Regions from separate parts of the Homo sapiens genome. Here all the other regions are linked to region 2. Evidence: fine-mapped expression QTL. A gene starts in region 2. Each other region holds a variant in brackets. All regions are shown on one strand. Distances are between the middles of the regions.

Region 1 (11,320 bases), 68 kb before region 2:
AGGATTACAGGCGCACGCCACCACGCCCAGCTAAATTTTCTAGTTTTAGTAGAGGTGGGGTTTTGCCACATTGGCCAGGCTAATCTCAATCTCCTGATCTCAAGTGATCCGCCCACCTCGGCCTCCCAGAGTGCTGGGATTGCAGGTGTGAGCCGCCATGCCTGGCCGAGAGCAATGATATCTAAATAGAGTATTGGGTAAATGTCATTCAAGTACTCTAAAGTCCCTGCATTGTTAGAGGATAACATCAGACATTGTTAGTTCAAAGGTACTTGCTAAAAATTTTCTTAATCACTAAAAAGTTGTTTGAAAGGTATACAACTGCTAAGCTCATGAAAGGAAAAAAAAATAAAAATTTAAAAACCTAGTAACCAAAAGATGATTAGAAAGGAGAGAAAAAGAACCAGGCAGAACAAAAAACGACTTAGTAAGATGAAATGTTTAAAATCAATATACTTCATTAATTACACCAAATGTTACATTTAATGAACAGGCTAAGTACTCTAGGTAAAATATAAAGATTGACAAACTGGATTGAAAAAATCTCAACTAGATCCTAGCTGTGATTTGTAAATGGTGTCCCCTCTAAAATTCATGTTTAAAACATAATCCCCATTTTGCTGGTAGGAGGTAGGAGGGTGGTGGGGAAGGTTTTGGGGAGTGATTAAGTCACTCTCATAAATGGATTCACGCCCGCAGAAAAGTGCCTTCAAAGAGAGTTTGCTCCTCTTGCCCTTCCCTCCCTTCCATCATGTGAAGACACAGCCATCCTTCCCTCTGGAGGATGCAGCACCAAGGTGCCATCTTGGAAGCAGACAGCAGCCTTTACCAGGCACCAATGCTGGTGCCTTGATCTTGGACTTCCCAGCCTCCAGAACTGTGAGAAACACATTTCTGTTCTTTAGTACTACTGAGTCTGTGGTATTTTGTTACAGCAGAACAAATGGACTAAGATAATGCTATTTACGGATACAAAAAGAGTCATAAAGATAGAAAAAGATCATGTAAATCAAAGCTCGTGTACCTATATGAGTTTTAGGTAGACTTTTATATCAAAAGGCATTGTTAGAAATATATATATCAATGATAAAAGAGTCAATTCATTAGAAAGATACAAGATTGTGTTTACCTAATGACACAGCATAAAAATACATAAAGCAAAAATTAACAGAACTCAGGAGAAATAGACAATCTACAATCATGATGGGAGATTTTAAGGCATTGGTCCCAGTAACAGAGAGAAAAAACAGATCAGAAAAAAAACAAAAGCAAAAACAAAAAAACCCTCAGAACGCTATGAAAGACTTGAACAAAATGATTAGCAAACTTGACCTAAATATAGAAAGCAAGGCATCCAACTACTGCAGAATATAAATTCTTTCCAAACATGAAACACTTACAATAACTGACCATGCTAGGTTGTATAGCAATAATCAACATATTTCAAAGGATAGAATCATGTATCTTCTCTGATCACAATGAAGTAACAAAAGACAATTAGAAAATGCCCATTTTTGTAAATTAAGAAATACACTAGGCGGGCTGTGGTGGCTCACACCTATAATCCCAGGACTTTGGGAGGCCAAGGCGGGCGGATCACCTGAGGTCGGGAGTTCGAGACCAGCCTGACCAACATGGAGAAACCCCATCTCTACTAAAAATACAAAATTAGCTGGGCGTGGTGGCGCATGCCTGTAATCCCAGCTACTCTGGAGGCTGAGGCAAGAGAATGGCTTGAACCCGGGAGGTGGAGGTTGTTGTGAGCCGAGATTGCGCCACTGCACTCCAGCCTGGGCAACAAGTGTGAAACTCCATCTCAAAAAAAAGAAATACACTAAATAAATCTTGTAAAACTTAATACATCAAAATGAAAATGAGAAAATATCAACATATCAGACTTACAGAATTTGACTAAAGCCATGCTTAAAGAAAAAGGTATAGCTTTAAAAACAAAGATGGGGGGAGGCTGAAAAAAATCAAAGAGCCAGATATCATTATCAGTAAGTTAGTAAAATTAACAGGAAATTAAATCTCGAAGTAGAGATTTCAGTAATAAAGAAGGGGAAACAATGACAAAAACGTTTACTTTCTATTCATACTTATCAGGAACTATAGTATTTATCTCATTACCTTTTAAGTTAACAGTGCTTTTTGTAGGTCAGCTTTAGTAACAACCCTATTTTGTAACATCATCACTCTGAAAAAATGCATTCTAAACCTTAGGCAGCTATCTTACAAATAACATTCTGAGGAACCACTCATTCACAAAATGAAGATCCACTTGAGGACTTAGAAACCATGGCAAAGGAGAGAACAAGAGACTTATCCCTATCCCCAGAAATGTTCATATGGCTTTCATAATCAAAAGACTATTCATTTAAATATATATCATTCATTTCTAATAACCACTGGATGTATCAGTGTGTGCTTATGAGGTATTCACCTTTTTCTGTCTCCTCATCACTGGCCATAGCTTCCCAATCATCCAATCCAGCATCCTCAGTATCTTCTTCTTCTTCTGTAAGTAAAAATTTGCATTTAAGACACAAAAATTATTTAGAAATATGAAGGTCTTTTAGAAAAAAGTAAAAAATTATGCTCTGACATAAAAAAAGAATGTTTTAATTATGTAAAAAATATGTATGCAGCTATTATCTTTAGAACTATCTTTTTTTTTTTTTTTTTGAGACGGAGTCTTTGCTCTGTCGCCCAGGCTGGAGTGCGGTGGCGTGATCTCGGCTCACTGCAAGCTCCGCCTTCCGGGTTCACGCCATTCTCCTGCCTCAGCCTCCCAAGTAGCTGGGACTACAGATGCCCGCCACCGTGGCCAGCTAATTTTTTGTATTTTTAGTAGAGACGGGGTTTCACCGTGTTAGCCAGGATTGTCTCGATCTGCTGACCTTGTGATCCGCCCGCCTCGGCCTCCCAAAGTGCTGGGATTACAGGCTTGAGCCACCGCGCCCAGCCAGAACTATCTTTTTAATATAGCTAGCATGTTATAATTTACTATTACTTAAATGCTTCCATTTCCTACTACTGCCAACATATTAAACTTAACCAATTTTACATTCAAGCTAATTGTTTCATTAATTTAATTAATTTAAATGTTTCTTTAGATCTTGAAAAAGCTACATGAATATACTCAGTTCTTGAAAACAAATGAAATTTCATATATATCTTCTTTTTGATCATCCAACTCATACTTTATGCAAGGAATTTATTATTTTGCTTTTAACCTTTACAGGTATTTAAATATACTTAAATTCTGAAGTTGAAGGTACAAAACTACCACCATCACTCTGGGTCAATGCTGTGCTCATAACCCCAAAACAGCCAGAAAGCTAAAATTCTGAATATTATTTAGACATTAAAGACCTAATACTCTTCTTAACAAGAATGCTTTTCTTTACTGAAATCTAACCAGGCACAACTATTCTTAAATGAAAGTAAGATGACGGGTAGGACATGTGGTACCTGCTTCCCTGAAATAATCATTATTTACTAACAAGCCTGCATAAGTTATCTTGAGGAGGAAATGAGACTCAGGTACCCAAAACATCCATCTAAATTAGCAATTCTTTCTGGTGCTAAAAATACGATCTAAAATAGTGGACTGCTATTAAGCATATCAATCTAAATTTCTCTAATCTCGTCATATCAGTGCTAGGCTGAGGTCTACCCAGGTGAGATGATCCTATTCGCTCAGAAGAGAAAAGAGAAAAAGAAGGAAAGGAACTATCAATAATATAATTCACCAATGTAAATCAGGCTTAGTATTCTGTAAAGGCTTTTCCCATTCCTGATCCTATCTTTAATCGCTGGGGATTCTCTTGAATACCAAACATACATTTAGGCAGCCCCAGCTCTCCCATCAATATCTAGTCGTAAGAGTTAGAACAATGTTTTTTTTTTAAAACCAGAGATTTTTCCCCAACTCCTCAACATATACACAGATACCCCACAATGAGTAAGTTGAATTCTCTGATTATTGTAAATAGAAGCCGACCTTTAGGAAGGTCTAAAAATGCCAATTTTTATGGTTCTTAAAAAGTTCTAGTTAAAAATCCTTCCAATTTGCTTCTGAAGCATTAAATGAAGACCTTCAGATCTTTTTTTGAGATTTCTGACTCATAAATAAAAGCATCAGAGAAAATCCAAAACCTACTATCCTTTCTTCCTTTTTTTTTGAGATGGACTGTTGCTCTGTTGCCCAGGCTGGAGTGCAATGGTGCAACCTAGGCTCACTGAAATCTCCCTGCAACCTCTGCCTCCCAGGTTCAAGCAATTCTCCTGCCTCAGCCTCCCAAGTAGCTGGGATTACAGGCACCCGCCACCACCCCCGGCTAATTTTTTGTATTTTTAGTAGAGATGGAGTTTCACCGTGTTAGCCAGGATGGTCTTGATCTTCTGATCTCGTGATCCATCTGCCTCACCCTCCCAAAGTGTATCCTTTCTACAAAACATTTTCTAACACTGCTGAAAAGAACACAACTGATTCAAGTCTCACTTGGATACTTATTCAAAGTAGAAATGAAAAGAAATAGAAAAGAAAGAACTATGAAGAAAGAGGGCCATCCAGCCAGATACTTATTTGGTTCTCCCCAATTATTTATAATAACTAAGACAACTTATGACACACCAACACTATTTAATAAGAATTCACTAATTAAATAATCAGATAACACTACCCGCCTGGTTCAACAGGAGGTGGTGTCTCTTCCTTTTCTGGTACTCCTTGTTCCATAACTTCTACAGCAGCACATAATTCCATTGATTCAGACACTGAAAAAGGGGCAGAAACCAAGATAATATTTTTTTTGGTGTATAATTTCTGTTAAGATACTCCATTAAGTACTGAATAAAAAACAGTAGTGTAAACCTATTTATTTTTTATTTTTTTGAAATGGAGTCTCGCTCTGTCACCCAGGCTGGAGTGCAGTGGTACAATCTCAGCTCACTGCAACCTCCACCTCCCGGGTTCAAGCAATTCTCCCTGCCTCAGCCTGCCAAGTAGCTGGGATTACAGGCACCTGCCACTATGACAGGCTAATTTTCTTATTTTCAGTAGAGGCAGGGTTTCATCATGTTGGCCAGGCTGGTCTTGGACTCCTGACCTCAGGTGATCCGCCCGCCTCAGCCTCCCAGCGTGCTGGGATTACAGGCGTGAGCCACTGTACCCAGCCTGTGCAAACCTATTTCTTCAAGTTTAGAAAATGTTTAAATATAGTCATATGTTTTACAGGAAACTACTCTTTCTGCTCAATAAATAAAATACAAAAATCACAGAAGGCTAAGAAGGAAACCAAGAAAAGATAAGAATGGTAGTTTTACTTCTCAGAGTTAACAACAGTTACAATATTCATAGGGTAGAACCCAGATTTTTCAAAGTAAAATACTTTTTCCATTAGCTTGTCATTTGAATCAAGTGAGAATAATGGCATTAATAAGAAATAAGTTTAGAAAATAAGTTTCAATATGCATTTCGGATTTTTTCCTTTCTTCTTTACAGACACTGTTTTGAAGATTGTGGGGGAAAGGCAAACAACATATTTCCTAAATTAGAGGCTATTTTGTATACAAACCTTCTTTACTTTCTAGCTGCTGTGGTATTTTTTTCCTCTTTTTATCTTCATAAATTGGCCTCTTCTTTGGCAAAGAGTCTTTTGATGGCACTTCAACACCTGAGGGATAAAAATGAAAAACTTCAGGCTTATACTACTTGCATGTCACCTGAGAAGTACTATTTAAAGGATAGCATTTCATTCACCACAGAGACACATACCCTAAAATATGAAAGGATATTCATGGAAAAACTTGTATCTTTTACATATAAGGTATTTTAAAATTTACATACAGTAAAAATCCTCGTTTCACATACAGTGAGAGTTTTGATACGTGTATCACCATCACAATGAAGATGCAGAAAAGCTCCATCACTCCATCATCCTGTGCTGCTCCATGTAATCAAACCCTCCTTACCTTCTTAGCCTCTGGTAACCACTGATCTGTTCTCCAACCAAAAGATTTGCTTTTTCTAAAATGTCACATAAATGGAATCTTACGGTCTGGCCTCTATCATCATAATGGATTTGAGAGTCACTCACTCTGCTGCACATGTCAATACTTCGTTTACTTTCATTGTTGGGCAGCATTCCATTGTATGGATATATCAGTTTGCTTATCCATTCAACAGCTGAAGGACATTTGAGTTGTTTCTGGTTTTTTGCAATTATGAATAAAGCAGGTATGAACATTTTCAGACAGGTTTCTGTGTGAACATTTCTCTTGGGCAAATATTTTGTAGTGTGAATGATGAAACATAAGGTAAATATGACCTTAATTTTTATAAAGACACTGCCAGTTGTTTTCCAAAGTGGCTATACTATCTTGCATTCCCACCACTAATGCAGAAGAGTTTTGGCCAGGCGCAATGGCTCACGCCTGTAATCCCAGCACTTTGGGAAGCCGAGGTGGGTGGATCACCTGAGGTCAGGAGTCCAGGACCATCCTGGCCAACATGGTGAAACCCCATCTCTACTAAAAATACAAAAAATTGTATTATATAAAATATATATATATTGTGGTGGTGGGTGCCTATAATCCCAGCTACTCAGGAGGCTGAGGCAG[G/A]AGAATCACTTGAACCTGGGAGGCAGAGGTTGCAGTGGGCTGAGATTGCGCCACTGCAATCCAGTCTGGACAATAGCGAAACTCTGTCTCAAAAAAAGAGAGAAAAAAAAAAAAAGAGTTTCAACTGCTCTGAATGTGGTAAAGGTTTCTCTTTTTTTAGAACATTCTTTTCAGATGCGTATAGCTTTCTGGTGAAAGTGTCTGTTGATACCTTTTGCCCATTTTTAAATGAACTTATTGGTTTTCTTATAGTTGAATTTTGAGAGGTCTTTATATATTTTGGATGTTAATTCTTTCTCAGATATCTGACTTGGAGGTACTGTCTTGGAATTCTCTTGACAGTGTCTTTTGCAGAGAAAAGTTCTGAACTGGTCTTTCTCAAAATGTATCTTTTTTCCTTTTATGGTTTAGAGTCCTATCTAAGCACTCTGCCTAACACAAGATATCCTCCTATGTTTTCCTCTGAAAGTATTATTGTATATTTTACATTTACATATGATACCCATTTGGGTCAATTTTTATACAGTGGGAATTAAAACTGGTTTTGGGTTTTTCTGCATACAGATGTCCAATTGTTCTAGTACCACTTGCTACAAATACTGTATTTTATCCACTGAATTACCTTTCACCTATATACTAACCATGTATAGACTATTTATCTGTTTGTCTATCTTTCTGGCAATATCACACTGTATTAATTCCTATAGCTTTATACTAAGTCTTGAAATCAGGTATTCTAAGTTTGTTCTCCTTTTTCAAACATATTTTGGCCATTCTAACTCTCTGGTCTCTTCATATCCATTTTAGAACTAGTTGACAGATAGCTACAAAATACCATGCTGTGATTTTGACTGGGATTGAACTGAATCTACAGATTACTGGATTACTGACTCAGTCTCTCACTATGGGCAGAAGCCTTAGAATAAAGACAACAGAAATTGTATACCATGGGATTTTGAATGAAGTCACTAATAAAGGAAAATGACTAAAAATGTTATCTCTAACGTAGGAATGTATATGGATGTGTGTTGTGCATGTACTGAAGAATGGCTAGAATGGTAAAACCATAGCTATGACTGGTAAGACGAATACATTAAACAAACCAAAGAAAGAGGATAAAGCCAGCTGAGAATGCAGAGATCATCACTTTAAGTTTTCCTTGCCTAGCAGCCTACACCTACTAAGATGAAAAGCATGGGCCTGAGGGGAAACTGTAGGCTGGATTACCTGAAGGGTGGTCCCAATAACACCCTAGACTTAATCAACTGACTACTGCTCTAGTCTCAGACTCTCAAATAAGCTGCTGTACTTGGAATCAACACCAAGACTTGTATGTGTTTAGACATTCCATTCACTTTGCAAACTGAGACATAACAATCAAGTTCTTGAAGAAGCTCTTTGCCTGAAATGAGTTTATTACAAATTATTGATAAAGTACTCATATATGTGTGTGTGTGTATATGCTTAGTAGTCACAGGCTAAAGGATGACTGAAAAGTTAACCTGCTGCACATTTCAGAGCAATTATATGAAGACACCTGCAGATGCCTACACTCTCTGAGAGTACATTTTTAGCTCAATGAATAAGTTTTACAATATTCTAGGTAATAAATGTGGTAAGCAGCTGTCTTTCAAACATACGATGAAACAACACTGTAGGATCTTTTAATGAGATGACTCACATGAGTGGGCTGTGGGTGGGGGGGAACCTTGAATGTCAAGCTAAGGAATTTGGATTCTTATTAGTAGACAATAGGGAACTAATAAGATGGTAAACACTGGACAACACTATGAAGAGTAAGAGACCAGCGTCAGGGATGCCACTTGAGAGAGCATCTCTTACAAGCCTAATGCTAAAGACTGATGCTAAAAGTCCACCATTCTACACTGTAATTTCCATAACTACAAGTCTAACTGCTCCTTAAAACAGCATTTTTGAGACTGGCAAATTACTCCCTGCTTGGTCCCATCTGAATTTCTTCATGGGTGCTTTTAGCCTCTCCAATAGTCACCAATGAAATCTGATGTATGAATGCTAACTATATTCAAGTTTGTACCTAATTTCATTTAAAATTTTACAAAAGCTATATTCTCCATTAAGAATAAAACTTTCTAAAATCTAAGTACTGGGTTTCTTCACATCTAATGTTCCTAGCTGAACATATGCGTAAGAAAAAGTTGCACAGACCAGCTTAAATTTCAGCTCTGTGGCCTTGGGTAAGCTGTTTACACTCTGAACCACCATTTCTTCATCTATATGATGGAAGTAAAAATAGCTATAAGATTTTTTTATGAGGGAAAAATAGACAATGTCAAAGACATTGTAGCATCAGTTACACACTAAGCACACAATAAATGGTAGCTATTACTGTAATTATAGCATAAACACCAAAATGACTGTAATATAAAAATCTAGGGAATATAGGAGCAGGAAATTTAAGAGAGGTCCCAATATATTCTTCTCATTGGAGCAAAGACACTATTTTAAATCACCTTACCTTTCAAAAAAGTAATAAATTATATGCCCAGTTGTGATCTCTAAACACTATTACCCTCTAAAAGGAACAAAAGCTCTTTGGATAAACAACCGATTCCAGGTCTCAGCCCATGCAAGATGAACCTGGGATATCTTGTTGCATCAGAAAGTAAGGAAAGGGTTAAAAAAAAATGGTCATGAATACTTTTTCACCGTGGTCATGTGGGCAAACTAATATGCTGTCTGGGAATCACTGTATTTCTTTTTTATTTTTTGGGATTCACTTTAAAACATGCTAGGATAAAAAGTAGATGGAGAGGTACAAAACAAGAATGTCAAATGGTCCTAATTGTTGAAGCTGGCTGATAGGTACACAGGGACTCATTCTATTATTATCACTATTCTTGTTTGTGGGAGGATAACTTATTTAGACATACTATCATTTACATATAAATTTTTATCCTCATGTAGATGTCATCTTCCTAAACAATGAAATGACATCACCTATTCCTTACGTTTTACTGAACTTTTTCACAGATTTTTCATAGGAACTGTCCTGATGCAAATTCCATTCTCCTTCTGAACATTAAGGGATATAACTGCATGTGCAGAGCTCTCTGACCATTCAGTTAATGAAGAGTACCACTCACCCTGAGCTTGTAGCAGTTTAAGAGTAGCTTCGGCTCTGGCTCTGGCTTCTCTCTGGGATTTAGTTAAAAGTTTCCCTTCTTTTTTCAAGCGTTCTTTTCTTTCTTTTTCTTTTTGCTTTTTCCTTTCTCTTTTTTCTTGTTCCAATCGTTCCTATAAAAGAGTACATGTCAGACAAAACCTGTATTCATTTAATGAACTATAAAATTCAAATGTAAACAATCCAAACTTCAAATAAATCTCTTGAGACACATGCAAAGTATTATGTTAGGAGATTCCAAATCAAAGTATTTTAAATGTTATACATGATTATTAATTAATATCACATCAGATTATTGGCAATGATACATAAGCAACTTATGTATCGAGCAATCTGTTCTTGAGAAAATAAAGATAAGATGTGCTGTACCTCTTCATCTTATTATTTGTATCGGAACAATAATATAACTGAATTACCATGCAACTATGAAATTTTCAGAATTAGAAGAGTAAAGATATTTTACAGAGAATAGATTTTAAGTTAAACACAATATCAATGTTACCAACTTCATGAAAACATACCTCTTCTTTACGCTTGGCTTCTAATTCTTCAAGCCGTTTTATACGTTCTTCCTCTTCTCTCTTCTGTCTTTCTTCTTCCTCTTTAAGCTTAGCCAGAGCTTCTTGCATAGCTTTAACAGTGGCTTTGCTAGGTCCTTTTTTCTTCTCTTTCTCTTTTTCTTCCTTTTCTCCTTTCTTTTTCTTCTTATCTTTCTTCTTTTTGTCTCCTTCATTGTCATCTACCAAAAAGAATAAAGGCAAAGCATTGAAATGAAAAAACAATTCCCTGTGGTGATGACGAGCAAAACCCAACCACAATTCAAGGACCATAATGGGCCAAGGCCGATGCCAGCAGCAGGCTAAGTTCTACAGGCATCAAGGCATCCTGAGCACTTTGGTAACTAGAATAGCTCAGAATAACTCACAGATGGCCTCCTGAGAAGTCTGCAATACTGATGTTGGTCTCAGATGTCCTGAGGAATACAGTAAGACAGAAGGATACTGTCAGCAGCAAAAGGGCAATCCTGTACCTAATGTATCTCTAAATCCATGGTACCTGAGTGGCTGGTGTCCAACAGATGCTTATATGAAGTTCTAACAATCAGAATGAACTAACACCCACGTAAGTTCTGTAGCTAATTTCACTTCTACAAGATGGAGTTAATGAGAATGATGTCCACTTTAGGGGGTATTAGTAGGATAAAATACAAAAATATAGGTAGTTATACTCCAAGAACTCTAAAGAATTAAAAGCTATGAAGGTACTTTCATGGTGTTCCTCCTCGAATATATCCAGATAATAAATATGCTAGCATTTAAAAAAGTTGCTGGGCACGGTGGCTCACACCTGTAATCCCAACACTTTGGGAGGCTGAGGTGCATGGATCACCTGAGGTCAGGAGTTCGAGACCAGCCTGGCGAACATGACGAAACCCCATCTCTACTAAAAATACAAAAATTAGCCGGGCATGGTGGCGGGCTCCTGTAATCCCAGCTACTTGGGAGGCTGAGACAGGAGAATCACTCGAAC
Region 2 (11,320 bases):
ATTGATGAGAATACTAAATAGCTTCCCTTTTAGATATTTTGTAGTATACACTACAATATTGTTAAATATAGTCACTGCAGTGTGCAATAGGACACCAGAACTTACTCCTCCTATCTAGCTGTAATTTTGCATGCAACCAATCTCTCCCCATTCCTCCCCAGCCTCTAGTAGCCACTATTCTGCTCTTTACTTCTATGAGATCGCCTTTTTTTTTTCTTGAGATGGAGTCTTGCTCTGTTTCCCAGTGCAGTGGCGGGATCTTGGCTTACTGCAACCTCCACCTTCCAGGTTCAAGCAATTCTCCTGCCTCAGCCTCCTGAGTAGCTGGGATTACAGGTGCCCACCACCATGTCCGGCTAATTTTTGTACTTTTAGTAAAGACGGGGTTTTACCATGTTGGCCAGGCTGGTCTCGAACTCCCGACTCAGGTAATCTGCCTGCCTCGGCCTCCCAAAGTGCTGGGATTACAGGCGTGAGCCACCACACCTGGCCATTACACATGATCAACTTTTTTAGATTTCACAAATGGGTGATTTTGTCTTTCTGTGCCTTATTTCACTTAATGTCCTTTAGGTTGATCGTGTTGCTGCAAATGACAGGATTTCATGCTTTTTAATGACAAAATATTATTCCATTATGTGTATATACTGCATTTTCTTTATCCACTCATGTGTTGATGGACACTTAGGATGATTCTGTGTCTTGGCTATTACAAATAATGCTGCAGTCAACATGGGAGTGCATATTTCCCTTTGACATATCCATTTTCTTTGGATACATACCCAGCAGTGAGATTTCTGGGTCATATGCCACTTCTACTTTTAATTTTTTGAGGCATCTCCATACTGTTTTCCATAATGGCTAGATTCGTGTATATACCCACCTAGAGTGTATAAGGGCTCCATTTCTCCATATCTACACCACAATTTGTTATTTTTTCTCTTTAAAAACATTTTTAGATTGAGGTGTACACGTGTAGGTTTGTTACATGGGAGTTAAAACATAATCCTTTCTTTTTCTTTTTCATAAATTGAGACAGGATGTTGCTATGTTGCCCAGGCTGGTCTTGAAGTGCCTTGACCTCCTAAAGTGTTGGAACCACAGACGTGAGCCACTCCACCCAGCCTAAAACTTCATCTTCTTTGGTAAATGTGCTTTCATCTTCAGCATTCCAGACTTAGTACCATCCTCCCAGGCACTTATGTCCTCTTCTTTGCTCTCATCCTTGGCGTCTTGTCCCAAACTGAGTCCTGTCAATTCCACCTCTAAAATAGATCTGTAATATCTTTCCTTTTTCTCTTAGCCACTTTCATGCTGCTGATAAAGACATACCTGAGACTGAGCAATTTACAAAAGCAAGAGGTTTAACAGATTCACAGTTCCACTTGTCTGGGGAGGCCTCACAATCATGGCGGAAGGTGAAAGGCATGTCTCACATGGCAGCAGACAAGAGAAGAGTGAGAGCCAAGTGAAAGGGGTTTCCTCTTATAAAATCATCAGATCTCATGAGACTTATACACTACCATGAGAACAGTATGGGGGAAACTGCCTCCATGATTCAATTGTCTCCCACTGGGTCCCTCCCACAACACAAGGCAATTATGCAAGCTACAATTTGAGATGAGATTTTGGTGGGGACAGAGCCAAATCATATCATTCCACTTCTGACCCCTCCCAAATCTCATGTCCTCACATTTCAAAACCAATCTTGCCTTCCCAACAATCCCCTGAAGTCTCAGGTGCCCCCACCACGCCTGGCTAATTTTTTTGTATTTTTAGTGGAGACGGGGTTTCACTGTGTTAGCCAGGATGTTCTCTATCTCTTGAGCTCGTGATCCGCCTGCCTGGGCCTCCCAAAGTGCTGGGATTACAGGCGTGAGCCACCGTGCCCGGCCGGGGTTTCTTCTTATAAAATCATCAGATCTCTTGAGACTTATTCACTACCAGGAGAACAGTATGGGGGAAACTGCCTCCATGATTCAATTGTCTCCCACTGTGTCCCTCCCACAATGCAAGGGAATTATGGAAGCTACAATTTGAGATGAGATTTCAGTGGAGACACAGCCAAGCCATAGCCCCGTCACTCTAGTCCAACCATCATCTCTCTTCTGGTCTTCTGTGAAGTCTCCCGAGTCACTCTGGCTCACCTCCAATGCAATCAGCAGCCAGGGGACACTTTTTAAAACATAAATCTGACCGTCATGTGCCTGCGGAGTGTCCCGGAGGCTGGATGGAGAACGACCTCCTCAGCTTCTAGGATTCTTAGGGTGGGGACCCAGGTGCAGCAGGTGAGGAGGTGGAAGTCATCATAGAGAGGCAGGGTTTGTGAGAAGCCATTTCGTCTCTGTGGAGCCTTTGCCAGGCAACATGCTGGCTGCTGCCCAGGAGAACCTCCCAGGATGCTAACATGGCCCTCTGGGCTGATGACAGGGTGCTTTTGTAGGTGGAGCTGGGCATCCCCAGATTTCCCCACACTGTAATACCTTTTAATTGTTGGTATGTGCTAGAGCTTGGTGGAAAAAATAAAATGGATGAGTTCCATTTTGGGGGTCAGGATAGAGTTTTTAATGGGTGCATTAGTTCTCTTTTTACCCCAACTCTGCCAACAACCGAGAGGAACCCAGTGTTCTCACACTCCCCTCCCAGAGTTAAAGTTCAGGAACTCCCTGGGTGTCCAAATCTGGACCCTTGCTCACAGTGCCCTGCCTTGTGGTCTCACCATCTCAGTCACAAGTAGAGAAAAACAAAATCTTCTTTTTTTTTTTTTTCAGATGGAGGCTTGCTCTGTGGCCCAGGCTGGAGTACACTGGCATGATCTTGGCTTACTGCAACCTCTCCCTCTTGGTTCAACTGATTCTCCTGCCTCAGCCTCCCGAGTAGCTGGGATTACTGGTGTGTGCCACCATGCCTGGATAATTTTTGTATTTTTAGTAGAGATGGGGTTTCGCCATGTTGGCCAGGCTGGTCCGAACTCCTGACCTCAAGTGATCCACCTGCCTCGGCCTCCCAAAGCGCTGGGATTACAGACGTGAGGCTCTGTGCCCGGCTGAGAATAACAAAATCTTAACCCTCAATGTCTGCACTGGGGATGCAGAGTGAGTGACTTCCAAAAAGTCATAAATACGCTTTAAATCATTCATTTACTCATTCCGTAAACATGTACTGAATACCCCTTATGTGCCATAAGGAATACAGGAGAAAAAAGCCTTTGTTTTTGTTCTCAAGACAACAACAAACCAAAGTGCTGTAGGTGCTATGGTAGAAATATCCACATGTTGCTTGAAACACAAGGAACACACGTCTAACCTGGGGCCCAGCATTGGAAGCCCAGTCCAAATCTTGCTGGGTGAGGTTGTAGGAATTCTTCAGTCATTGACTGATTCAACAAAGATTTACTGAACACTTACAGTGTGCCAGGCTGTTATCTGGGCACTGAAGACTCAGTCTTATAAATGAAGTAGCCAGATTCACAGCTCTCACGGAGCTTGTGTTTGAGTTGTGGTATGGGGAGGGAGCTAAGGCAGGGGATGCAGAAGAAACAGACTGTATACCAGTCAGCCGATAAGCAAGCCATTGATTCCACGTGTTTTACTGAGTGTCTAATATGTATCATGCAGAGTGTTGCATGCTGGTATTATAAAGACGAATGAGACACAGCCCCTGTCCCTGAGGGTTTAGATAAAAAGGAAAGATCCTGTAGGAATGCCTAGTGCAAAGAATGGCGCTGTGTTTGGGGAAAATCAAGCTGTTCAGCTGAGCTGGGGCACAGGGTGTGGTGAGGGAGGGGGCTCCCTCTTTCAGTCATGAAATGCACCCTTTCCACAACTTGGGAAAGAATCCTTCCTGGAAACTTCATATGAACCCTCTCAAAGTACTTATTGATGTAGACATTTGGAACACGCTGTAGGTCCTGGGTGTCTGTAAAATAGCATCATCCAGCCGATCATCTCTCCCCACATTGCTGAACTGAGGACATGTGAACTGGTATCTCTCGGTGGTTCAGAACAGGGGCCAGCAACCTACGGCCCTAGGGCCACCACCTGTGTAGTAAAGAAAGTTTTTTTTTTGGAACACAGTCTTGGCCATTCATTTAAATATTATCTATGATCACTCTCATGCTACAATGTCAGAGGCATTATAAAGACCACGTAGCCCAAAAACCTGTCTGGGTCTGTAAGAAAAAGCTGCCAACCCCTGGTCTAGGCGCTCTGCTTACCTGAAATACAAACCAATAATGAGTTTCTGACACACCAAGTTCAATTCCCTCCCTCCCTTCCTTCCTTCCTTCTTCCTTTTCTTTCTTCCTTCCCTTCCTCCCTTCCTCTTCCCTTCCTCCCTTCCCCTTCTCACTCTCTCTCTCCTTCTCACTCTCTCTCTCTTTCTCTCTCTCTTCCTTCCTTGTTTTCTTACCTAACCCACATTCCCAGAAAATGATGTGAATAAAGACAAGTGTTGGACCTCAATGTGTCAAAGTTAAACTACAACTAGGATCTGCCTTCTGAGGTATGGCAAGAAACAAATTGGTTAATGTTTGCAAAATGCCAGGACATTCTCGAATAAAAGGCCCTATATAAGTTCGGAGTATTTATAATAATTATGATTATTATTATAATTTATGAGATGTCATAAATCTCTCCAAAATAGGATGAGATGAACACTTTTAACAAGAGAACAGGACTCTATATAAATCGCTGTGGGCTCACCACCTCTAAGGAGGAGCACTGACTGAAGACAGGTGAGTGTGAAGCAGAGGCATGGATCTTACACTCGGGCTTATTGAGGATGAAAATCCAGTGTATGGTGATCAGTTGGCAATGATTGTGTCTCTGCTGCATAAGAAATATTGGACTCAGGCGAAACTTAAGGACCTTGCAAAGAAAACCCAAGTTTGAAAAGATTTGTAGATGATAGAATAATTTTTCCTGTTCATTACAACACTCATCAAAATTTAGATATCTTTTAATGCAAGTATGTCATTACTTTTGGATTTGTGAGCATGTGCAAATCGAATAATGGGAGAAAAGAAATGTGTGTGCACTTAACTGTAGCTGTAATAGGGCCAAATGCGACGTCATATTTGTTAACTGAAAGCCAAAAGACTAAGGTGTTTGTATTTTGCCAGACGGTAAATCCCTTGCCTGCCCTCATGGGCAGTCTTGCCAATGCTACATTAACCCATAGACCATGAGTATTGGTTCTATAACAATCTTATTTTCTCTGCAAGCTGTGTAAGAACTAAGGCCAACATGTCTAACAGCCTCGGCTAACAGACTAAAAAGACAGATACGCCTCTAGAGTCCATAGACGGAACAGAGGGGCCAAGTCTCCCTGATTTGCTCTGTGCAGAAGGAAACGTTCACGGGGAAATCTCCAGCATAGGATGATCCTTCCTGGAGTTCTGAACTCTCAAAAACGCAAATGGGAAAAGCAGGCACAGAGGACGCACTGAGAGAAGGAACTCCCTTCCAGCTCACAGTGTCTCTATGCAGGGAAGATTTGCCTGCCCAGAGGGAAGAAAATGATCAAACTTTCAGAGGTCTTCTAGGCTGGTAATTATTGATTACAATCCAAATTCAGTGAATAGGTATTTTCACAGGCCATGTGAAGGTGCAGCTCTACGCAGCGTAACAGCTTAAAATGAGCCTTCCTGTTGCTGCCCTATATTTTTGCTCTAAAAAGTTGTATTTTTCTCAAAAAAAAAAAGATCTTAGTGGCAGAATAATTTTATATTATTTTATATTTGTGACTACATTGCTATTACTATTTTAATTTTAGGCCTGTTGGTGCATAGCAATCTGTGAGGCAATGGGCTGGAGTGTTGCTGTACGTGCATGTGTGTGTGTGTACGTGTGTGTGTGTACGTGTGTGTGTATATATGTAGGGAGGGAGAAGATTAGAATAGCAAGAAGAGGATGAGTACGACATGATGCTACTGGTAAGGCCTTTAAGAAATTTAAAAACTTAAACATTTTAAAAATGGAATAAAATAAATATTTAAAAATTTTAAAAAAACAAAAATTAAAAAAATTAAAAAGTTAAAATAATAAAAAATTAAAAATAATTTTAAAACAGGCCAGGTGTTGGTGGTTCCCAGCACTTTGGGAGGCTGAGGCAGGCAGATTGCTTGAGCCCTGGAGTTTGAGACCAGCCTGGCCAACATGGCGAAACCCCGTCTTTACTAAAAATACAAAAATTAGCTGGGCGTGGTGGCACAGGGCTGTAATCCCAGCTACTCAGGAGGCTGAGGCAGGAGAATCACCTGAGCTCAGGCAGGTCGAGGGTGCAGTGAGCCGAGATCACAGCACTTCACTCCAGCCTAGGTGACAGTCAGACTATGTTTTGAAAAAAAAAAAATTAAAACAATTTTAAAAATTAAAGAGTAATCTAATGAGACATTCTTACAGGCTTATAATGGTGAGATGATTCCACAATTTTGGGCCACTGCACTCCCACCTGGGAGACAGAGTGAGACCTTGTCTCGATTAAAAAAAAAAAAAAAAGAAAAAAAGAAAAAGAAAAAGAAAAAACAAAAAGAAAAGAAAAAGAAAAAAACCCAGGGGCTGGGCGCGGTGGCTCATGCCTATGATCCCAGCATTTTGGGAGGCTGAGGTGGGTGGATCACCTGAGGTCAGGAGTTCTCAACCAGCCTGGCCAACATGGTGAAACCCCATCTCTACTAAAAATACAAAAATTAGCTGGGCGTGGAGTGCCTGTAGTCTCAGCTACTCAGGAGGCTGAGGCAAGATAATCACTTGAATTCAAGAGGCGGAGGTTGCATTGAGCTGAGATCGCACCACTGCACTCCAGCCTGGGCGACAGAGTGAGACTTTGTCTCAAACAAAACAAAGCAAAACCCAACAAAACAAAAAGTAATTAAAATTAAAATTAAAAAATTAAAAAAAGAAAGGCCTGTTGGCACACAATGAGTAGGTAGACACAGAGACATGTTAGCAATAAACAAGGGTGACAACACAGCTTAGAGCAGGAGACCATGCCTAATGTGGATGCATACAGGAGTTCTCAGTTCTCTCAGGATTAGATGGGGACACCACAATGGGGCAGGGGCACCTTCATTGGGCACGTTGAGGTGTTAATACGTCACATTTCTGGGCTGGATGGAGGGCCCCAATGACCTGCAATGATACTGTTCAAGGTAAAGATTGAGAGCATTCATGGAAAAGTTTCTAAGGTGAGAAAACCATAAGACCAAAGATACCTGTTTCTACCTTTTCTAGAAAAATTGATGAACTGAAGAAGACATGGTCCATTATGCCTTACAAACTTACACAGTGCTTTGGGAATTCCAAAGTACTCAGTGGAGAGAGGGTGAGTAGAGGAAGATGTCCCCATCAAAGCCACCAGGAACATGAGGTAGCTCCTGAGGGATGCTCTGGTTGTCAGTTTCCAGTGTGCCTGGCAGGCCTGTTGCCCCAGCTTGTTGACACCCCCTTGCTGTTTGTTACTATTTTGCTCTCTGGGAAGGGAGAAGAGGGATGCTACCATAAACATTGTGCTTGACATCATGACCACTGTGCTGCCTTGGTCTGACATCTTCATAATGGTTTTAAGCAGGGAGCCACAGGGGAATTAACAAATGAGTCATAGGGAACTGACAGACACTCTTTGAGCACACCCGAGTGATGTCTCAACAATCTCTTCTAAACACAGAGTACTTTTCGTCACTTGTAAAGTTGGGCCATAGAGTTTGGGTTGCTTCAATATGCTGTATTTATGGACAAAATGACATTGTTCATCCATTTAAGAATTCCAAGCTAGGTGTGGTGGCTTGAGCCTGTAACCCTACCTACTCAGGAAGCTGAGGTGGAAGGATCACTTGAAGCCTGGAGTTCAAGACCAGCCTGGGCAACATAGTGAGACCCATTTCTACATAAAAACTAAAAAATTATCTGGGCATGGTGGCATACACCTCTAGCCCCAGCTACTTGGGAGGCTAAGGTGGGAGTATCACTTGAGCCCAGGAGGTCAAGGCTGCAGTGAGCCGTGATCGTGCCATTGCACTCCAGCCTGGGTGACAGAGTAAAACTCTGGCTCTAAGAAAAAAAAGAAAAATTCCATTGTCACTTCTTGCTCTTCCCTGATGAAATTGAAAAACTTTACCTTGATGACCTGGTCCCAGGAGCAACTAGAAAGTAATTCTGTGTTCCCATTAAGTGGCACATGTATTTACATAGACTCTTTCATTAAAGTGACTTCTCAACACAGATATTTAGTTCCAAGCATGGAAAATACGGTAGCTCTCCTGTTACAATAAAAGCTGAGTCCTTCCACTTGGGTTTCCAAGAGGAAGTATTTTTTCTTTCCTGGAAAAGCAGCAAAAAGAGTGAAATACCCTGGGTGGAGCATTTGAATGTGAGCAGTGCTTTTTCCTGAAGGGTCCTTCCATAAAGCCAGTGATGCACTTTCATGAGACCATGAGCTTTTCCTATACCCAAGCAGCTCTTTGTCCATTCTTTTCTCCTGGGATTGGTTGTCCTCTCTTGTTTACTGCTGGAGGCTCAGGATGCTGAATAAATGACTCCTGTTGGGTGATTAAATCTGAGCGTTCCTGCAGACCCAGCTAAGATTCCAGGTCCCTGAATCTTTTTGGTGTTGGGACTGACCATGACATTTTGTGCTCAACTAAGCAAAATCGGACAGACCATCTCAATGTTGTAGAGAGAATAACAAAAAGCATGACTGCAACTGAAGGGCATATGCCCCCTCAGTTTAAGAAGACAGAAATCGAATAACTTCCTTTTTCTTTTTTGAGACAGGCTCTTGCTCTGTTTCCCAGGATGGAGTGCAGTGGTGTGATCATAGCTCACTGCACCCTTGACCCTCTGGGCTCAAGCAGTCCTCCTGCCTCAGCCTCCCAAGTAGCTAGGACTACAGGTGTATGCCACCACACCTGGCTTCAAATGACTTCCTTAAAGCCTCTCCATCTTGAGATGTGATCTCTTCCTGGGTGTTTGAAAGAAACAACCCATAAGGTTAACCTCAAAACAAAAGAGATGAGAGAAGCATTATGAAAGTACCAAGTGCCTTGTTTATATGCACATTCCTACATGTAATGACAGTAATAATTCAAAATGCTAGGCTGCCAGGCTCTGCTGACTGGGGCAATGATGACATACACCCTGGAGTGGCAGGGCTTGGTGGGAGGCGCTTTGGAGGCAAAGGTCCAGAAACTCTACCATTCCCTGAGGTTAACAGCAAACTATCCTTGGTGGTATTTGTGTATTGGTTTGGTAGCCAGTAGGAGAACCAGGGCTGTTTGTACTCATGGAAGGTGATTAGGGGAATGGTTGGGATAAGAGAGAGAGAGAGCACATGAGCGGGTGCTCCATGTTGGCCACGTGTTCATTCTCCAGTCTTGTGAGCACCTCATGAGTTCAATCCTGGGACCCCTGCCCATGAGCCAGCTTCTTGGGGATTTGCTGGTGGAGGTAGCTCCATTCTCCCTGGGCTCTGGTCCAGGTTTGTTGCCGCATTGGGGTTTTACAGAGGGGGAATGGGGAACATGGCTCAAGGTGATAAAGGGGGTCTGTGATTCCAGGCTGGGGTTAGAGCAGTGGGAAACGTCTTCCAACCAGTGTACATTCCAGGGCACTGAGGAAAGCGTGGTCTTTCCTCAAACCTGAAGAAGAAGGGACCTAAATTCCAAGAAGTCACCAATACAAAATTCTCCTTTTGATAATGGAGATAATAAAAAGGCTCTTGGGATGAGGTATGGGCATCAGAAATTTGCTTTTCAGGGTCTGGAGCCAGGTCAGTATGTTTCTTGGTGGTTGAGATTCAAAGTGTCTTGCCTTCTTGAAATAAAGTAGTTAGTAACTTGACTGTATGTTGAGTTCCTGTGGGCTGAGTAAGAGTCTTCTCATTTTTAGATTAATTGAAAGGATGAATGGAGCACTTACTTGTCCTACTTTTGCTTTTTTTTCACTATGATTCAAATAATTCATTTTCTTAGGTCAGATATGGGGAAATTTGTTCTTTTCACCCCTGCTTCTGTGGAAATATTACATGTGGTTATGATGATGACTGATATTTTTGTATTCTCAAGCTAATTTTTGTTTTAAAAGTGTTTCAGGAGCCGTAGAGCCAGATCGTCATCATGTCTGCATTGTGGCTGCTGCTGGGCCTCCTTGCCCTGATGGGTGAGTGTGGCTGATTTTTACAAATGACTTTGGAGATGGGAAGGATAAGCACAGGAACACAATGGCACTTCTAATACTTGAAAATGCAACAAAAAAGATTATTTTTTCCCTAAACTGTCCAACAAATCCTGGAGTTAGGAACAGCCACCAACAATCAGCCTCTCCCCAAATGTCCCACAAAAGATTGGGGTTCTCTGGAATGCAAGGTGGGCTTAAAACAGCACTGCTTGAAGCCAGACTTTAAATATACACCATCAATAGCTGCTCATTGTCCACTATAAAAAATGCCAAATTGAATTTATTCCTAAAGCATTTATTTCCATAGAAGAATTGAGGTGGTTGCCAGAATAAGACTAATGAATAAGACTAATTCAAATAGAAAACCAGAATCAAGGCAACCGAGTACACATGACTAAGCTAATCACTGAGGCTGATTTAGTTGCTGTGATTGAACTTCAGCTTTGCAGCTGGAGGAAAAAGGGAAAGTACTTGTTTTTGTTGGTTTGCTTTTGTTTTTGTTTTTTTTGAGATGGAATTTTGCTCTTTCACCCAGGCTGGAGTGCAGTGGTGCAATCTCAGCTCACTGGAATATCTGCCTTCCGGTTTCAAGCGATTCTCCTGCCTCAGCCTCCCAAGTAGCTGGGATTACAGGCGCCTGTCACTACACCCGGCTAATTTTTGTATTTTTAGTAGAGACAGGGTTTCACCATGTTGGCCAGATTGGTCTCAAACTCTTGACCTCGTGATCTGGCCTCCCAAAGTGCTGGGATTACAGGGTGATCCACTGCGCCCAGCCTACTTGTTTTTTAATAAATAAAAGGAGGAAGCAAAGTTCCTCAGGAGAAGCTAAATTTTCCTGACTCTAAATTTAATAGATTTCTTAGATGAGGTCTCATAGTCATTCATTTAGTTATTGACCCATTCATTCAACAAATATTTAAAAATGCCTACAAGGTGCTAAGCATTGGGAATACAAAGAATTTTGAGGATCATAGAGTGTGGCTAGGGAGAGGTCCACAAGGCAGGAACCAAGGAGTGATAAAACCAACTGCAGTACTAAGGGTATTTGTCACCAGTCATAAAGATAAAAGTGCACTGATTAAAAAATAAAAAAGAACCTGTCAGCTGGTTTAATTTTTAGTATATTCATAAAAGATCTAGTC
Region 3 (9,324 bases), 160 kb before region 2:
ATAAGAATGTAATAAAATTAAAACTTGAGTTGATAGAGGGAAAATTCTTCTTTGACCTATGTGTTTTATGTATTTATATTTATTTATTATAATTTTTTTTTGAGATGGAGTCTTGCTCTGTCACCCAGGCTGGAGTGCAGTGGCGCCATCTCACCTCACTGCAACCTCCACCTCCTGGGTTCAGGCAATTCTCCTGCCTCAGCCTCCCGAGTAGCTGGGATTACAGGCACTTGGCACTGCACCCGGCTAATTTTTGTATTTTTAGTAGAGACGGGGTTTCACCATGTTGGCCAAGCTGGTCTCAAACTCCTGATCTCAGGTGATCCGCCTGCCTCAGCTTCCCAAAGTGCTGGGATTACAGGTGTGAGCCACTGCGCCCGGCCCAACTTTCCTGTTTTATTTATTGCCTTGCCTTATGGTTTATGTTTATGAGGTCATCATTATGTTCTGGTCACTAGCACAGAATAAGGTCCATTTATTTATTTAGTTTTTAAAATTTTTTTTTTTCAAAAAAGGGGGGAGAAAATGTAACCTTTGTGATTGGTTTACCTTTTCTTTAATTCTAGGGTGGGTATATGGCTGCCAAGGTCCAGAAATTGGAGGAACAGTTTCGATCAGATGCTGCTATGCAGAAGGATGGGACTTCATCTACAATTTTTAGTGGAGTTGCCATCTATGTTAATGGATACACAGGTTGAGTACTTTTTACTTAACCCTATTTTGGCATGTATTTTTATTAGGATTGAGAATGATTTGTTTTAAAATTCTATTTTTACTCATTTATTATAGACAAATGATTGTAAGATGAGAAGAAATAAATCATCTGCTTAGATACTTCTTTTTCCTTTCCATGTTGCTTTTACCTGCCATTGTCTTTAACTTTTATCAAAGTACATAGTTTCAAAAAGTCACGTGAGGTTTAAAATGAAAAACGGGAAATTACCACACATGGGTAGTAGGACTTGTAAACTGTGAGCTTCACTGTAGGTCCATTTCATTGGTAAATCTCTAGATGTCATTGTCCATAGGTCCTTTAGGGTGGGGTGGTGTGTGGGTGTGTGTCAGTGTCAGATTTCCTAGAGAAGAATCTTTTACTCTCTTGTCTGTAGAAGAGTGTAAACTGCCAGCATTTGGGTCGCCAAGCAGGGAAGGAAAGGACCTGAATTCTCACAGTTTAGGAAGTAAAATTTCACTTAGTCTCTCTATTCATTTTCTCATTCCTACCTCCTCCCCACCAGCTGTGCCTATTGTCATTGAGTCCGGTATCTGGAAGGGGTAGTGTAGTCTTTATTCTTGGTGAAAGGAAAGAAATGTGCAAATGCTTCTTTGCCTGTTGCACAGTTTCAAGGATGAATTTATCCACACATCCACTTTTGAAGGTGCCTGTGTGTTTATTTCATGACTTTCTCTTTGTTTTACTGGTAACAAGCAGCTTCTTTCCAAGCTTCCATATGGCCAGCTTCAGTTTTATCTTTCGCTGAACTGTAAAGTCAGTTAGCACTTGCCTGTTAGTTACCAGGTTTTCTGCCTAAATTTTTCTCTATTTTCTTGGGGATTCTTCTTCTTATCATTTCATTGTATTTTTTGAAGTGAATGGCTGTAAATATTTGTGTCAGTCTGTTACATATTCCCCTGTCCCCTTCTCAGCTGGCTGATACCTGCTATCTTTCAGGTCTCCATGCCTCGCTTTCCCTTGATAGTTTGACTGTCTTCATACTGATTTAGGTGACTTCTTGTGCTCTTCTGGAGCTATGGCTCCCTGAATGAATCTGCATCTTAGAATTCTTCAGACCTTTCCATAGTTGTCTGTTTACTGGACAAGAGCTGGAGCTACATTTTCATCACTATATCCTTAGTGCCTCTACAGTGACTGGACACAATCATTCAGGACATATTTGTTGAATTGGAGTTAAGTATTAATTAACTGGTACATTTATCTGGTTTAGTAAGAGAAGAGTGTGTTGCTTGTAATTAAGTGTTTTATTAGGCATCATTGATGATGAATTTAGTCCAAGAATGTCATCTCAAAATAAATGCTGGTGCAGCATTGGGAAGTTCACATGCAGAAAGCTTGTAACTTTTCTGTGTAGGAAGGTATCCTGACAAATTCAAGCTCTGTGGACTTCCTGAGATGCTCTATGAAAAATTAAAACGTTAATGAAAACAGGCATTGCTTCTTACATTAGCCAGTCATGGAAGTCTCCAGTTCAAGAGAGCACCCTTATTCACATAGGAGGAAGAAAAAGAGATTCTTTGTGTGAGGGAAGAAAAATGAATATTGCAGTAATCACTTTTTGATTGAGAATCTGGAATTCTAAATCTGCTTTTATCACTAATTTTTGTGTGACTGTAAAACATTTTCTGTTTAGATCTGTTATTATCTCTATCCTTTTCTGCAGGATAGAGATGATAATATTTTTGCTCTTGTTATTAAGATTTCATTATAACTGTACAAATAAAGTTCCATTATGCTGAATTTCACCGAGATATCCAAACTGTGGTGCTGTAAAATAACTTTATTTTTAGAAAAATTAAGTTTTAGTGAATACTTTACCACTTTATAGATAAAACAGCATTAACAATTAGCAAGTAAAAATAACTCTTTAGATGTAATAAGACAAGTAGGAGGTGCTATTTTGTTTTTGATTTAAAAAAATAAGCTTTATTTCACAGTCTTGAGGAGTACTGGTCAGCTATTTTGTAAAATGCCTATATATATATTTTGGTATCATCTTTCTTCTCCATTAGCATGTAAGCACCAAAGGTGCAGACTTTGTCAGTTTTGCTCATTGCTATTGTGAAAGAAAGTTTTCAGGCCAGGCACGGTGGCTCACGCCTGCAATCCCAGCACTTTGGGAGGCCGAGGCGGGCAGATCACAAGGTCAAGAGATCGAGACCATCCTGGCCAACATGGTGAAACCCTGTCTCTACTAAAAATACAAAAATTAGCTGGGCGTGGTGACGTGCGCCTGTAGTCCCAGCTACTCGGGAGGCTGAGGCAGGAGAATCACTTGAACCCGGGAGGCGGAGGTTGAAGTGAGCCGAGATTGCGCCACTGCACTCCAGCCTGGCGATAGAGTGAAAAAAAGAAAATAGAAAGTTCTCTGAAAAGGAATTTGGAGGAAAGAGACTTCATTCCAGTGAACAGTTTGCAAACCTGGGAGATGCAGTTTTCACTGTAAAAGAAGCTGTGGTGTCCCTTCTTGTTGATTCTTAACCATGCTCCCCACAAACTGTAATAATCCAAGTGTTCTTGATTCCTTTAAAGCTCCCAGTTCAGCCATTTGAGCCTCTCATGATTTCGTAGTCCCTATACCTTCCAACCCAGTTAACATTGAACTTGAACTTGGAGGGAAGACCCTCTAATAGTTCACCTGTCAACCTATTCTTCCCTTCACCTGGCCCCAAAAATGTTTTTTGCTTGTTAAGATTGACTTCTTTGCCTTCTATCCTTTTTGTTTGTTTTGTTTGTTTCTTTGTTTTGAGATAGGGTCTCCCTCTGTCACCCAGGCTGTAGTGCAGTGGCACTATCACGGCTCACTGCAGCTTCAACATCCCAGGTTCAAGCCATCCTCTCTCCTCAGGCTCCCAAGTAGCTAGGACCTCAAGTGTGTACCACCATGTCCAGCTGATTTTTTAATTTTTTGTAGAGACAAGGTCTTGCTGTGTTTCCCAGGCTGATCTGAAACTCCTAGGCTCAAGCGATTCTTCTGCCTCAGCCTCCCAAAGTGTGGAGATTACATGTATGGGCCACCATGGCTGGCCTATCCATTTTTTAAATTAATTTTTTTTTAGATAATTGTAGATTCACATGCAGTTGTAAGACATAGCACATAGTGATACTGTGAACCCTTTACCCAGTTTCCCCAAATGGTAATATGTAATAAACTTGCAAACAGTGTCACAACTGGGAAATTGATACTGATACAGTTAATATACAGAACATTTCCACACTACAAAGATCTTTCTTTTTTTTTTTTTGAGACAGAGTCTCACTCTGTCACCCAGGCTGGAGTGCAGTGGCGCGATCTCGGCTCACTGCAAGCTCTGCCTCCCGGGTTCACACCATTCTCCTGCCTCAGCCTCCCGAGTAGCTGGGACTACAGGTGGCCACCACCACGCCTGGCTAATTTTTTGTATTTTTAGTAGAGACGGGGTTTCACCGTGTTAGCCAGTATGGTCTTGATCTCCTGACCTCGTGATCTGCCCACCTTGGCCTCCCAAAGTGCTGGGATTACAGGTGTGAGCCACCGCGCCCGGCCTCCACACTACAAAGATCTTTCATGTTACTCTTTCATAGTCACACCCACTTCTGTTCTCCGCCTTTCCTTAACTCCTGGCAACCACTAATCTGGTCTCCATTTTTATAATTTTGTCATTTCAAGAATGTTATATAAATAAAACATACAGCATATAACCTTTTGGGGCTGGCTTTTTTCACTGAGCATAAATTATCTGTCAGGTCATCAAAATTGTTGCCTTTTTATTGTTCAGTTATATTTCATAGTGTGGATGTACCAGTTTGTTAACCTTTCATCTGTTAGGGACATCACAGTTATTTCTTGGTAGGCTATGAACATTTGTGTATGAGTTTTTGTATGAGTATAAGAAGAGTACAGTTGTTGGTTCCCGTAATAGTTACATCTTTAGTTTTTGTAAGAAACTGCCAAACTGTTACCCAAAGTGGTTGTAGTATTTTATACTCCCACTAGCCTTGTATGAGGGATCAACTTTCTTTGCATCCTTGCCAGCATTCAGTGGTTTTCATTTTATCCATTTTAATAGATGGTGTTGTATCTCTTTGTGATTTTAATTTGCATTTGCCTCGTGGCTAATAATGTTGAACATTCTTTCATGTGTTTATTTCTTATCTTTACATCATCATTGGTGAAACATTTGTTCATATTTTTTTCCTCATTTTCTAATTGGATTTAGTATTTTTTACTGTTTAGTTTTGATATTTCATTATATATTCTAGAGACTACTGCTTTGTCATAAAAGTGGTTTGCAGGTATTTTCTCCCAGTCTGTAGTTTTTCATCCTCTTGAAATGGTCTTTTGCAGAACGTTTTTAATTTTGATGAGATCTGATATGTTGATCTTTCCTTTTATGGATTGTGCTTGCAAGTCTAAGAACTTGTCACTTTGGTGCTAGATCCCAAAT[G/A]TTTTCTTCTATATTTTTAGATTTTATAGTTTTATGTTTTACATTGAAGTTAATGTTTCATTTTGAGGTTTTACAATTTTTTTTTTTTATTTGTGGATTTCCAGTTGTTGCAACACAGTCAGTTAGGCATATTTTGGTGGATCTGTTTCTGGGTTCTCTGTTCTCTTCCATTGATGTTTGTGTCTGTTCCTTCACCAGTACCACACTATATCAAATACTGTACCTATGTGGTAAGCCTTGATATCAGGTAGAGTGATTGCTTTCACTTGTTTCTTCTTTGTCAAGATAATTCTGGCTATTCTAGGACCTACGCCTCTCTCTCTCTTTTTTTTTTTTTTCTTGAGACAGGGTCTCACTTTGTCACCCAGGCTGGAGTACAGTGGTATGATCTCAGCTTACCGCACCCTCTGCCTCCCTGGCTCAAGCGATTCTTGTACCTCAGCTACCCGAGTAGCTGGGATTACAGGCACATGCCATGATGCCCAGCTCATTTTTTGTGTGTTTTTAGTAGAGATGGGGTTTCGCCATGTTGGCCAGGCTGGTCTCGAACTCCTGACCTCAGGTGATTTGCCTGCCTCGGCCTCCCAGAGTGCTGGGATTACAGGTGTGAGCCAGTGCACCTGACCTATATAAATGTTAAAATAAGTCATTTATCCACAAAATACCTTGCTGGGATTTTGATAGGAATTACATTAAACCTGTAGATCAGTTCGGGGAGAATTGACATCTTTACTATGTTGAGTTTTCTAGTTTACAGACCTTATATCCCATTTTATTTTTCTTTAGTTGATTGAACAGATATATTTTGGATGCTGCTTGTGGGTTAGGAACTATGTTTGAAAAGAGATAGCAGTTGATGGAGAATGTGGATTTTGTGATGAAAAAGTAATCTCTAAGCCTTAGACATCAACAGAGGAGGGTGAGTGCCAACACAGAAGAGGAAACAATTGCCTTTGGGAGTGGGAGTGAATACTTCATAAAGGAATCGAAATGTTTAGCTTGGTCTTAGATAAATAGGCATTTTCCAAATGAAAATGGAGAAAGACATTCTAGTCCTAATTCTGACCTACATTTTCAACCTCATGTTCTTAAATTTTGCTCAACAAGATTACCCTGATATTCTAGATTTGTCTTTTTACTTTTACAGTTCTGTGTTTCTGTTTGTTCTTTTGCCTCTGAGGAAAAACTCCTTCCCTCCTCACTTCTGTGAACTGGAAGTATATTCATTCATTAAGATCCAGATATAGTTAGGTTTTGCCTCCTTCCCTGTCTAAGCCAGTCCATAGTAGTAGTATTTTATATAGAGAGATATATAATTCATAGCATTATTGCTAGAAACATTTATTTTGACACCTGGATTTTGTCTTGTGTTGTTAGGTCTTAATTCTATATTAAGTTCTTTGGCGTTAGGAAGCCTGTTTTATGTATAGTAATCCCTTGCCAAACATGGATTAGAGATAACACCTCAGGGCCTTAAATTTGCAGTTCCTTCTGCTTCCTCAGGTCTTCATCATTCAGATCTCTGCTCAAATGTTACCTTTTTACGGAGACCTTCCCTGACTTCACCTATCTAAAACAGGTGTACTTTGCCCTCCAGTCGCTCTCTAACCCCTTATCCACCTTCCTCTTCATTTATTTGCACCTAAAATGGTATTACTTGCATGACTTATTTTTGTCTCCTCAGTGGAATACAAGTGCTATCACGGGGCACAGACTTGAGTCTTGTTCATTGCCATATCTCCAGTGCCTAGAACCTTGCCTGGCACATTGTAGATACTCAATAAGTATTAGTTGAATGAATAAATAAATAACAGGTTTTGTATTTGTACATCAGAATGTTAAAATATTTTCACTCAGATGCTAAATCAACTCAGTCTTAAGGAATGGGCCACATTTGAGGCCTGCATTGTAATCTGGGAGGTAGGCTCTGGGCATGTTTATTTTTGTGAAAGCTGCCCAGGGGGAGTGAGTGCTTCAGACTTAGTGGACAGTGGTTGCACTTTAGTGGTGTGAGATTGGGACAGTTCATATGGAAAGAGGTGTTCAGGTTATTTTCTACTTCCTTTAGTACATGGGTAAAAGACCAGGTCTTTTGATTTTGGCACTGCTGAAGTTTGTGAAAAAGCAGGTGGAGGGGGGCCCGGACAAGTACTTTAGCACAATTCACAAAATGAAACAAGGGGGAATATGCAAGTGTAACAGACTTATATTTCAAATAAGGATTTGTTTGAAAGCTGACAGCTTACATTGATGTTTTCTAAACATACAAATGTGGTGTTTTAGGAGAGGATTCTCTTTAGTGTTGACAAGTCTAATTTTTTGGAAATAAATGCCTCCCAGATATTATTTTGTATGGATATATAATATCTCTCCTTCCATTTCCTGTGAGACTCTCATCTTGTAGATAAGAGATGGAGGAATTGAACCTCTGACATAGAAGACTTACCATATTAATTTATGCCACCTCCTGTAATTTTGCTAGTACCTGATGTGAAATTTGCACCTAGTTGGTACTCAAAAATTTGTTCCCTAAGCATTTGAAACTTTTCTTCAGTTTTTGTTTGGTTGAGTGTATCCGTGGCTTTTAGTTGATTGTGGTGACTCTGTTGGTAAGTCTGAGGTAGTTAGGGGTGAGAAGAGTCAAGAGAGTAGTATTGCTGCTGCAGAAACTGAGGGACAGGAGTCCAAAGACAGAAGGGTATGCACAGTAAGTTTTCTCTGTTGCCTCATCAATAAGTTATCTTTTCTAATTCATAAGATTGTGAAACTCAAATGAAATAATGAAGATGTTGCCATGGTAGGAGCAAAGGAGGTATAAGCAGCCATTCACCTCACTTCTTTCTGTGATTTATATAGCACAGTCAACAATTAATTAAGTTCTTTGGATATGCAGGAGGAAATGGTGCATATAGTAAATGTTTTCTCAATAGAGATCTAGCTAGGAAAGCTTTTGTGCAAGATTTAAAAATTTTGTTTATAGAATTTGTTTTAACCAGATGAGCAAAACTTTCTATAAGCTGGGCCTACAGACGTGAAAGTGGTCTTCATATGGCTGTTTTGATGTTATATGGTGGCATTTGCTCTTGTGACATTTTACTTGTAGGGCTTTAGGTCTAAACGTGGGCTAAATTGTGGTCCTTGTATATGGCTTTTACTTTTACTGTGCTTTCAATTGTCTGTCACTATGTCTGGTTTTAGTTAAACCTCAAATTTAGTTGCATATAGAATGTTCTGCAAAATAAAACTAATAGTAGGAGTATTGTGGAATTTTATTTATTTGTTTATTTAAGATAAGCTCTGTTGCCCAGGCTAGAGTGCAGTAGACTGATCATAGCTCACTGCAGCCCCAAACTCCTGAGCTCAACGGATCTTCCTGCCTCAGCCTCCTGAGTAGCTGGGACTAGAGGTGTGTGCCACCACACGTAATTTTTGGGTTTTTTTTTTTTTTTTTTTTTTTTTTTTTTTTTTTTTTTTTGAGCTGGAGTTTCACTCTTGTTGCCCAGGCTGGAGTGCAATGGCGGGATCTTGGCTCACTGCAACCTCTGCCACCTGGGTTCCAGTGGTTCTCCTGCCTCAGCCTCCCAAGTAGCTGGAGTTACAGGCGCATGCCACCACATCCAGATAATTTTGTATTTTTAGTAGTGACGGGGTTTCTCCATGTTGGTCAGACTTGGTCTTGAACTCCTGACCTCAGAGGATCCACCCGCTGTGGCCTACCAAAGTGCTGGGATTACAGGTGTGACCCACCGTGCCCAGCCTTTTCTGTTTGTTTTTGTTTTTGTTTTTTTGTGGATTTTTTTTAAAAGACGGATCTTGCTGTGTTGCCTAGGTTGGTCTCAAACTCATGGCCTCAAATGATCCTCCTGCCTCAGCCTCCCAAATCTTTCAAATTACAAGCATGAACCAGGAGGTTGAGGTTACAGTGAGCTATGATAGAGCCATTGCAGTCTAGCCTGGGTGACAGAGCCAGACCCTGTCTCTAAATAAAAAATAAAAAGGCAAAGAACAATGAGGAGAAAAGCACTCACTCTGACATTTCAAAACAGTGACATTGATTGTAAAAATTTGGAGGATAGAATTTCCCTGAATCTAGTTTTGTTTTATTTTGATTTTTTTTTTTTTTTTTTTTTTTTGAGACAGAGCCTTACTCTGTCACCCAGG

Alleles and levels. Positions count from the first base shown, and alleles are read on the strand shown. Sizes are in standard deviations (SD) of each study's normalised expression. Not every link is listed here.
For the expression in tibial nerve of the gene that starts at base 4,588 in region 2, allele A in region 3 goes with a higher level than allele G (small effect, 0.37 SD a copy in GTEx).

What was found. PIP is the estimated chance that this variant, and not a neighbour inherited with it, causes the effect.
Region 1: its variant is the best candidate, but not a certain one, in a credible set for the expression of LYG1 in whole blood (TOPMed, PIP 0.54).
Region 3: its variant is the best candidate, but not a certain one, in a credible set for the expression of LYG1 in tibial nerve (GTEx, PIP 0.84).

Annotation. Positions count from the first base shown.
Region 1 is chr2:99,362,854-99,374,173 of GRCh38, reverse strand. EIF5B (eukaryotic translation initiation factor 5B) reads right to left here. Exons shown (of 24, transcript NM_015904.4): 5 at 10,312-10,529; 6 at 9,753-9,903; 7 at 5,583-5,681; 8 at 4,693-4,782; 9 at 2,444-2,518. Among named protein-coding and RNA genes, the nearest start is that of EIF5B, 31 kb to the right of the region's middle. The variant G/A (reference allele first, on the strand shown) is at 6,628.
Region 2 is chr2:99,294,465-99,305,784 of GRCh38, reverse strand. It overlaps LYG1 (lysozyme g1), which reads left to right and starts at 4,588. Exons shown (of 7, transcript NM_174898.3): 1 at 4,588-4,735; 2 at 7,236-7,326; 3 at 10,083-10,157. The coding sequence starts at 10,115. The region is part of intron 1 of LOC107985923 (a long non-coding RNA gene); the gene reads right to left.
Region 3 is chr2:99,453,865-99,463,188 of GRCh38, reverse strand. REV1 (REV1 DNA directed polymerase) reads left to right here. Exons shown (of 23, transcript NM_016316.4): 3 at 567-693. Among named protein-coding and RNA genes, the nearest start is that of REV1, 31 kb to the left of the region's middle. The variant G/A (reference allele first, on the strand shown) is at 5,164.